Regions from separate parts of the Homo sapiens genome. Here region 1 is linked to region 2. A link means that fine-mapping ties the variant in region 2 to the expression of a gene that starts in the linked region. Tissue or cell type: thyroid. Region 2 holds a variant in brackets; the other region holds the start of a gene. All regions are shown on one strand. Distances are from middle to middle.

Evidence for each region. PIP is the estimated chance that this variant, and not a neighbour inherited with it, causes the effect.
Region 1: RGS6 starts here. The variant in region 2 is fine-mapped to the expression of RGS6 in thyroid (GTEx, PIP 0.98).

Annotation. Positions count from the first base shown.
Region 1 is chr14:71,929,015-71,934,398 of GRCh38, reverse strand. RGS6 (regulator of G protein signaling 6) reads right to left here and starts at 1,970. Exons shown (of 18, transcript NM_001204424.2): 1 at 1,458-1,970. LOC124903404 (translation initiation factor IF-2-like) reads right to left here and starts at 2,473. Exons shown (of 2, transcript XM_047432046.1): 1 at 2,374-2,473; 2 at 1,509-2,230. The coding sequence starts at 2,473. The coding sequence ends at 1,509. RefSeq lists silencers at 1,722-1,881, 1,902-2,181.
Region 2 is chr14:71,965,204-71,970,587 of GRCh38, reverse strand. The region is part of intron 2 of RGS6 (regulator of G protein signaling 6); the gene reads right to left. Among named protein-coding and RNA genes, the nearest start is that of RGS6, 35 kb to the right of the region's middle. The variant T/C (reference allele first, on the strand shown) is at 3,303.

The DNA.
Region 1 (5,384 bases), 36 kb after region 2:
CTCTCCTTCATCACAATACCTCCCAACAGCTGACATTTATAGAACTTGCAGACTCTTTCAGGAAAGGATGAGTTATTGGGAATAGACTCTCTCTACATATATATAGTTTATGGTGCATGAGATCATATTTACAGGACAATTTAGCTTAAGAGTGGTACAATATCAAAGAACTTAGAATTTATCATCTATAGCATGCGAGATTTGGCTTGCAAAGGTTTCTCTCTCAAGAGTCTCACCAAATGTCCCTCAGCCCTCTACTTTCCTTCACAGAGTAGTCCCACCCATTGAAAAAGTGATAAATTAAGAATAAAGAATATACATCTTACAGAAAGTTTCCCACCATAGTCCCAGTTCCCACTCTATGTAATTACCTATTTGCCTATGAAAATTGATATGTAAGAGCCGTGTTGTCAACACATTTAACTAAACCTAACAGTTTCCTTTCAGTCTTAACACTTTTTGACAGACCATACACACACAAACTTGTAGCTCATTCTCTAACTCCATTTTGATACTTACAAGCCCAGTTCTTCCATCTCTCACCCTCCCTGGAAAGAAAGTCCAGTGGAAGTTTTACCTAAACTTGATTATTTTTGCGTTTTTCTTTGGGGTTGTTAAAGGTATTGATCAGAACTCACCTCCCAAGCATTGATAATCCCAAGCCGACGAGACCCCAAATATCTTCAGTTTGTAACATAGAAATGCTACTGGTCTCAATGACAGAGAAGGAAAATAACGTTCCTACTCCGTCAAATTAAGAAACAAAAATGAAATACAGCAGCTTTCATTCTGAACAAAACTAAATTTTCTGGGTCACTTTCCCTGTCTCACTGGGCCACTTCTTTACGCAGCCTGCTGGTGACTGTAAACACGGTCTCTTCACTCCTCACGCAACCAGTTCATTTGTCATCCTCTCCAAGCGAATAGCCACCGCTTCCTTTGCTAGCGCAGTTCCCAAACAACAAACCTCCCCACCCGCCCCTGCCCTCCACACCTCACCGCGGAGACTCGCTTTCTTTTCTTCCAAACCACAAATGGGCGAGCTTGTTCAGGGAAAAAGTTAATGAACGCCTGATTAGAGGCAAAGCTGCCCTACCTGCGATCACAACATCGGAAGACTGGAAGTATCTAAAAGCGCCATCCTCTGCGCTCTCGTCCCCGTCGGTGTGCGCTTCACACCCAGAAACCCAGGAACATGATTTATATGCAGACCTGCACCCATCCCACACAAGTCCACACGCCAGCTTGCCTAACCACTTATGTAAGCTCGTGCTTCCACAGTCCCAAACTGCAGACACACACACACGGGCACCTGTCACGCATCTGAAATGGACAAGCACCCACACCCAGGAGATGAAATCAACACATATTAATGGGGTGGGGAGGGAGGATACTGTTTTAAACCATGTTTTTCCCCCATTTGTTTCTTGCCCATTTTTTATCACAACTACAATTACCTTAGCAACCAAAGAATTGCCTTGACTCTCCCTCTGGCTCCAGAATTTTTCCTAAAGCCAACCTTGCGCCAGGTTCATGATAAAGCTGGAGAAGCCCAGGGAACCGGGGACCGGCAGCCTCTTGGGGGCGGAGGGGAAGTCTAGTCCGTCTCCGCGCCGCTCCCCACAGCCTCGCCTCCTCTTTCCGAGTTTCCGTGGTGGCGAGCGCAGGGGCTCAGCGAGCGAAGAGCGAAGCCCCGGGCCCGCGAGGACGCGCGGCGGGTCGCATGGTGCCGGGACTCGGGGCGCACAGGGTGTCCCCGGCGCGCTCCGGGCTGGCCTGGCTCTCCGCGCTCCCAGGCGTTCGCCGCTTGCCCGCCTCTGCCCGCCCCGGTCGGCAAGGGTGCGCGGAGGTCTGTCCGTTCCCTCGGCGCCTGGCGGCTCCGGCGGCTGTAGGAACGCGGCGCCCAGGCGGAGCTCTCGCCGCCGAGCAGGGCCGAGCGCGAGGAGCTGCCCCAACTCGCGAAGCCGTTCAGCTCCGCGGCCCGCGAGCTGCTGCAGCGGCGCCCGCTGTCGGATGCCGAGCGGAGCTGCAGCCCCGTGCCCCGCGCACCTGGGCGCCGGCACCTGGGCCCCGGCACCTGGGCCCGGACCGCGTGCTGCAGGGAGGGGCCGGCGGGCGGGGACCGGCACCTGAGCGCGTCCCGCGGGCGCCGCCGCACGGCTCACCTGTTCCCAGAGCCGCGGAAGGCGCAGACCGTGATTTGCTCGAGGAGGAGAAAACCTAGAAATGCCTCATCCTCAAGAAGCCGCCGAGAAAACCGAGAGACTGGCTCGACCGGGCGGAGGCTGCTTTCGTCAATTCCAAACTGGCCCGGTCCGGAAACTTCAGCGGCGTCAAGGTTCTCTTAGGGATTCCCGGCCCGGGGTGAGGTGCCCGGCGGCTTCTGAATCTCCCTCACTGACGTGTTGCTGGCGCCCTCTAAATTAAAACGGGACACCGCGACCGTCAGCGATATTGTTCCTAACCTCGTCATTTTTATGTATTCAACATGCACACCACACGCTGCATTTGGAATATTACAGGATGATTCCTATCTGGAACACTACAAAAGAACTTTCGAGAAAAGTAACTCTCAGATATTCTTGGGGGAAGCAGAAAAAAGTCGAAGACAGAAAATGAGAAAGTAACTTGAACTGATGCCTTTCTTTAACGTGGGAGTTTTGAAATGCGATGTGTACTTAGATTCAAAAAGCTGCAGGTGGAAATAGGACAAGATCACTAGTGCTGGACGGTAACCGTGGGATTTGTGTGCAATATCAATGCTATCAATATCAAGAATAAATTTGAGATTTAGTCCTGAATTGTAGTATGTCACCAGAAAAGGGGAAAAATACTTGAAATAAAATACCTAAATGCCTTTAACGATGGATGACCTGGACTCCTCATTCACATGGGTCCAGAAGTTAAAGAGTAAAGTCTCCTTCCCAAATTGTGTCTTTTCCCGCCATTCTACATTGATTAATGGATGTATTCATTCTTTCCTTCAATAGACAAATAGCACCTGCTCTGTGTTAGACCCTCTTCTAACATTAGAAATGGATAATAAAGGAAGCAGTCTCTGCCCTGAAGCCTTCACGTCGAATGGGATAACACACAAGCAGACATGTGTGTTATGGTAGGCTTAGTACACAGAAAGGCGGGGGGTGGGGGGAAACCTGCAACCAAGAGAAACCATACCCAGCCTAGTGAGGAAAATAGAATTGTAACAGATGTCCCAGTTGTTTATTAAAGCTGAAATATAAAATCTTTCTTTCCTCAGGCTCAATACTTGGCTCAAGCCGGTTGTGGAGCTGGCTGTGGCCGTTTGTCACAGTTAAAGAATAGGCTGTACATGGAGCGAAAGGTAGCAACTAGGGAAACTTCCGCTTTGAGGAGCTCTGCTTTTTTTTTTTTTTTTTTTTTTTTTTTTTTTTTTTTTTTTGAGACGTAGTTTCCTTCTTGTTGCCCAGGCTGGAGTGTGGTGGTGCAATCTTCGCTCACTGCAACCTCCGCCTCCCAGGTTCAAGCGATTCTCCTGCCTCAGCCTCCCAAGTAGCTGGGATTACAGGTGCCTGCCAGCTAATTTTTTGTGTGTTTTCAGTAGAGATGGGGTTTCACCATGTTGGCCAAGCTGGTCTCAAATTCCTGACCTCAGATGATCCACCCGCCTTGGCCACCCAAAGTGCTGGGATTACAGACTTGAGCCACCACACCCAGTGGGAACTCTGCATTTCTGAGGCTAGCAGCTCCTTGAGGGCCAAGTACAGCATGAAGGAATAATACTGTGGAAGTATAAACAGCAGGCTCCAGGCTCATCAGAAGAAAGCCTTACTGTGTACTTCTCTTTAAAAAAAAATATGTGAAATCAGATATTTATAGGAATTAGATATGTATTTTCATATTGATACATTTTGTGTATTATATGGGATTCCTGATATATCTATGTAGTATGGTTTCTTATACATAAAATATCTGATTTCATATGTATGTGTATGTATGTGGGGGGTATTTTATATATATATGTATGTAATAGAGACAGGACACATTTTTTGCTGACATGGCCAAGAGATTGGTTTATGTGCTAGGGAATTGAGCAAAGAAGTAAATACATTAAGAAAATTGGAGCCAGTCATCTCACTGCTGGAGAAGGGAATTACCAATACAGAAAGGCAAGAGATCTAGCTATGTGCCTTGAAGTTGGAGATGAAGGTGTAAAATGATTTTGGATCCAAAGAGATTATAGATAGATAGACAGAAAAATATAAGTGTATATGTGTGTGTATATGGTGATATATTTCCTAGGTTTGTCGACTGAGAAGGCCTAAAAGCAATGGCACCCCAGTAGCAATGAACACACCTAACACTCAGACCTTGGTTTCTTAATACCATCCTCCACTGAAAGGAACCACAGTTCCTTGGTATAGTGGATGAAACTAGAATAATTTGTTGTGCAAGGAAATGAGAAAATACTTAAAGAATTATGGAGACATGTCAAAAGAAGACAGAAGTCAGCTTGAAGGGGTTCCTGTTGGCCAAATCTTGAACTATTTAAGGAGTAAAATAGTTAATGACAAATTTAACCCTTTGAGTAAAATAAGAGTCCATGAGTCCATGCTGATAGAAACAGAGAAGGGAACTCTATAGTAGAATGCGACTAATAAATGAAGAAGAAAAGATAGAATTAGAAAACCACCATTTGGCAACCACCATCTTAATAATTGATTCAGGCCAGAATCATCAATAAATGCTAAAATTGGTGGGTAAAAGTTTGATGAGGAACAGGATATTTACATAGTCTCAAAGCATATCTCTAAAAATGTTCATTAATACATCATTAATTATTAATAAGTACAGCATACTTATTAACATGCAGCTGTAATACTTGGGAGGTATCATCTTAATCGACTGGTAAAATTTTACATAAATGAAAACCAGTGATGGGACAAATCAGCCTTGTGCAGCATCCTGATATGATATGCTGAGAATGTAGTGTCACTTCTTATGCATAAATATGTAAGTTAGGATAAAACATCAGACAAATGCAAATTGAAAGAAAAATCAAATAACTGGCCTGTATTCTTTAAAAATGTCAAGACTATGATAGTAAAGATGGTTTCAGATTGAAGGATGCTAAAGAGATGAGACAACTAAATGCAGCATGTGATCTTGAATGGGATCCAAAACCTATAAATGACTTTTGTGGCACAATCAGTGGATTCTGTGGATTCAATGGATTAAAATGGATCATTGTTATTTTCCTGATGTTGTACTCAAGGTATGTAGTAGAGTGTTCTTGTTTTTAGGAAGGAGAAACTGAAATATGAAGTGGTAAAGGGGCATCACATCTGCAACTTACCCTCAGAAGATGGAAAGGGAGCTCTTTGAATTATTTTTATAGCTTTTGT
Region 2 (5,384 bases):
ACTGCCCTCTATGAATTCCAAACCACACTCTATCCCTAGCTTCCTCCATAGCATCGGATTCTTCCAGGCTAGATCCTTCCCTTCTTGCTGCATACCACAGCCAATGTAACTAAAATAGTGTGACATTTACTTTCTGGATGTATGCCTAAACCAACAACTGCCCAGGACTTCAAGGGCCCTAAATCATTAGGAAGAGTGACCTTGGGGTATCAGAGCAACATAAAGGCTAGACTCAAATTCCAGCAGAAAAGGAGTCAATAACTAGAAATGAATAGGTGAAGGAAGCCATCAGTGACGAGGCTAGGCAACTAACCTGTTGATATACAAGAACATTGGCCTTTTTTGTCTTCCTCTAAAACCCCTATTTCATCTATGACACTATATACTACTGGCAATGTACAGTGTTGCTACTTAAACACCACTTGTTATGTATATAGCATATAATTAATACTACAAAATGATAATTTTATAAATGTCTTAAATGTTATTAGCAAGCCAAAGAAACAGGTTGCCACCAAGATGTCATCTAAATTCCACTGTTGAATATTAAATAATTACAATTAAAGCTTTTTATTCTAATGCCTGACTTAACTGGGCTTTATCTCAATCCAATTTAGATTACCTACAACTATCTAAAATATTTCTTCAAAAGCTCAAAAGACCTTTAAACGTGCATATAGTCTCACAACATTGTTTTGATATCAGGGAAGTGTACTAATTTACGAAAGATCAAAAAGTTATAGAATGGAACTTTGAAATCATTGCAGAAAGGTATTTGTACATTTTTAGACCAATTTCCTCCCTTTACAGAAGGGGAAATGAGGCCAAAGTATTACATTTTATTTATTAAGCTAATGGTGAGTGCATATAATTCATTTTTTAATTCTTTCTACTTTACATGGACACTGAATATATTCTTTTTGTGTTAGAAGTATCTCACAATTGAAAAGGAAGGAGGAAAAGAATGAAGAAGGTAGAAAACAAAACAAGAAGTAGAATCAGGAAAGTGAAGTTCTCCACACAAAGCTGGGACCAGACAGGCAGAGCCTCCAGCTTTTGGATGTAGAAGACATCCAGAGTGTGACATCTGCCATGCCTCCATCCTTCTGGATGTAGAAGACATCCAGAGTGTGATGTCTTCCATGCCTCCTGACCCAAACAAATCAAATTACCAGTCTAGTTAGGAGAACTTTGTCAAGAGGCATTGTTAACACCAAAGATCCAAACAAAATCAGAAAGCAACCTACTCTTACTCAAAAGCAATCTTACCTATGTAAACATTTTAGAAAATCTTTACCGAAGAAGCAAAAGCACCAATGAGTAGAATGAAACTTTAGCATTAAAAATGTGAGACATTCCATCAATGATATACTGGATTAAGAAAATGTGGCACATATACACCATGGAATACTATGCAGCCATAAAAAAGGATGAGTTCGTGTCCTTTGTAGGGACATGGATGAAGCTGGAAACCATCATTCTCAGCAAACTATTGCAAGAACAAAAAACCAAACACTGCATCTTCTCACTCACAGGTGGGAATTGAACAATGAGAACACTTGGACACAGGAAGGGGAACATCACACACTGGGGCCTGTCGTGGGGTGGCAGGAGTGGGGAGGGAAAGCATTAGGAGACATGCCTAATGTAAATGAGAGTTAATGGGTGCAGCACACCAACATGGCACATGTATACATATGTAACAAACCTGCACGTTGTGCACATGTACCCTAGAACTTAAAGTATTTTTTAAAAATCAATAAAAAAGTGAGACATTAATCCAAGTCAACTCTCCCAGAAGAAACATGAAAGTCAAAGATCTGCCACATATTATTTTCATTAATTTAATGTGCCCCATGGCTACTCAGCTCCAACAATGTGGTAACAGTAGTCTGTGGTTGATAACATGGTAGTCGCATAGGGTGCTAGAAAGGCAACTGATTGGAGTGGCCAGGCTCCCTGGACACCATTATGGCTTCCATGGGAAAGTGCTGAGGAGCCTTAATCAAGTTACTCACCCTCTCTATACTTTTAGTTCTTTCATCTATAAAATAAGACTAGAAAATATCTAAGGAAAAGCTACTAAAATCCCTATGACAAGAGCTTGGTTCTTCTACGTTTTGAGAGATCTACAAATAATTATGAAATCAAAAATCTAATTCAAAACACCAACTCTCTCATTACTTTGCAACACATACTATGTCTGGATATTGTAAAAGACTAAGTAAGTGCTTTTCAAACTTAGTTGGGCATCAGATTTTCCTGAGAACATCTTGAAACTCAGATTCCTAGGACCCAGCTCAGACCTATTAAATAGAAATACCTTGTGGAGGGGGTCCTTTGAGGATTAACATTTTTATAAAGCACCCTAAATGATGTGATGTATAGCTAGGTTCAAATATCATCATTACACTGGGCAATTCAGTAACTCAGGATCCTAAGGATACAGGAATATAAAAAAGGTTAACAGGTCTGGGTGTCTTCATGAATAATTAAGGTTTTCTTTTAAATAGATCTTTAATGTGACCAATACATTTTTCATACACACCTCCAATCCAAACTGTGAATATGAGGGATGAAAAACTAAATTAGAAAGTCTGTTCAAGTCAATAAATAAGTCATGCCTTGGGAAAGTACAACTTCTCACAGTTAATGACATGAAAACATGAAAAGGAAATGAAGAGTGTTCTGAAAAGTGTGGGCTTTAAAAACCCACCCATCATTACTCATATGTCAGGAGGTTACCATCCTAAATGTCATTTAAAAGTCACAACAACATTATGGACATAATCATCCACTTATTACTCGAAAGTTTACCCAAAAGCTTCATTTCTCTAGATTTGGCTTTTTAAATGTCAGCATCTGAATCAACACAATGCAGTCCAAGCAAAAATTTCACACTGAAAGTGTCTGACAACAAGAGAAAAAAAACAACAACAACAAACAAGAGAAAGAAAACAAAAATGAAAGCACAATTTTTTAAATGTAAATTGTAGTCGTGGGTATCTAAGGAAAGGTTTGGGTTTATGGCTATGACTTTGAATAATTGATTACACAAAAGGACTTCCAAAGAAAATGCTTTGAATTGTCATTGGCTTCACAATCCAACCCTTACTGATGATACCTTGAGGATAATGTCCTACAGCAAGTAAGTTCTTGGTTGTAGCCAAAAGGCAGCCTACAGCATCAGGAGTAGAAAACTATATGAAAATCCCATAGTTCAAGTACAACCATGGTTTAAGTCAGTCAGGTTAACTAGGTTTAAAATGGTGTCAGGACCTGAGCTCACACTGTGCAATAAG[T/C]GTGTCTTCTTTCTAACAGACTGAACCAATTCAATGTCCCTTTTATGGTAATTAATATAGCAAATAAACATGAACATATATATATATATATATATACTCTTTACACAAGTTTGTCACACGAAAGTAAGATATAGTTTCATTACTAGTTGTCATTTCTCTAAAGAACTACAGCAATTGACATGTTAGTTACTAAATTAAACCAGAAAAGGGCCCCTTACTACCACCAAAAAGTAAAAACCAAGTTCTCATAAACCTGCAGGAAGTTTTTTTTTCCTGTAAACATAATACAAACATTCTAGTAGAAAGGTGGTTGGGTTACATGACCTTTGCATTTCTTATTCTTTAATAATCCATGAATTTGCAATCCTCTGAAGAATATAAAAATATTTTTATTGTTTTCCTGTGTCTTAAAAAAAAACTCACTGTATAAATTTGCTCTAGACAACTTATTAACAGCACCAACATTTAGAGATTTTATCATTTATTTCCTCTCCAAGTGTCACTGACTCTACAAGACCTAAACATGAAAAGAAAAAGAGATATTCATTACGGACCACATTGTGGTCTAAGTAGGATATAAGATGCCTCATTCGATTTATCTAAAGTGATCTTCACAATTACCTTCCTCCCACATTTTTTTTTCTTTTTACAGATGAAAAAATTGTGGCTCATGGAAGTTAAAGAACTAACTTACAGTCATACTGCTAAAGAGTGGTAAAGTTGGCATTTTAACCTAAGTCTCACTCCAAAGCCCATGTTCCTACCAGCCTGGCACGGGGTCTCCCAGTTTGGGGGTGGGTTAAGAAAGTAACAATGACTCAATGTCTATTATTCTGTATGTTTCACTAATTGCTGAGTCCCATTAACCTATTTTTTTCTTTATCGCAATTTAATAAGCATGATTCTTAGAGATGGGTTATCTAGACATTCTCTTGCAAAGCAAAGAATTACAGAATCTTACACTCAAAGCCAGAATAATTTGAGAACTCTATTTTTACAAGGAAAAGAGAAAAATTCACCATATTGATCATCCAGGAATATCTAGTTCCACATTGCCCATATAAGTAATACACAGAGCCTCTCAGAATGCACAGAACTGAGTAGAAACTCAAGTAGTTAGTGAAATGAACATTAACTTATTTCCTTATTAACATACAAGAGAGTTAGTTTAAATTTTCACAAACATGCAAACATCAAAAAGGTGTACAATAAGAAGCAATTATGTCAAATTCAGCATGTACTAAAATAAACTTATGTGCCATTTTCTTCCTTTAAAATGTATTCTTTTTCCAAATATCCCAATTTGAATTAATAGCACCAATGATTTTCATTTACCCAACGTCAAAAACCCCGTCATCTTTGACCCTCTACTTGCCGCCTATATTCCTTCAGTTTCCAAGTCATTTTTAATCCAGACTTTAATTCCTCTTATCAGTTTCTCTTAATTCTGAAGGTGATTTCACAGGCTGGATTAGTGTCTCTCCTTTCCCTCCTTACCTTTCACACAGACACAGAAATCTCTCTCCTAGAGCCTCCGCTCTATCTTGATAACAATCCATTCAGCACAATGGGGCAACAGTCATAATCCCAAAGAGATCTCAATCTTGCAACTCTTGGCACAGAAGTTTTTCTTGATTAAATTGTCTAATTCAACACTAACATCTGGCTCCAGCCAGCCTCTCTTCCCAAAATCCTATCTCCATTTACTCCTTGTAATGCATCCTATGTCCAAGCTAACCAGTTCCGGTTGCTGTTACTTTCCTCAGCTCTGTGCCCTTGCTGAAACATCTCATCACCTGGTATGTTCTTCCTCTCTGCTTTCCACATAAAGCAATCCTGCACATATTTTAAAACTGAGTTCAAAGACCACTCTTCCACAAGCCCATTCTCACCTCTGAGGCTGGGAGAACTGGCCTCCTCCTCTGAAATTATGTAACACTCTACTTGCACATCTATTTTGGAAATTAACATTTAGACTCTATAACAGTTATTTGTGTACATCTTATGTCTCCTACCAACTGTAAGCATCTCATACAAATATACCTCTCTATCTCCCACAGCATTCAGCCCAGATTTTGTACA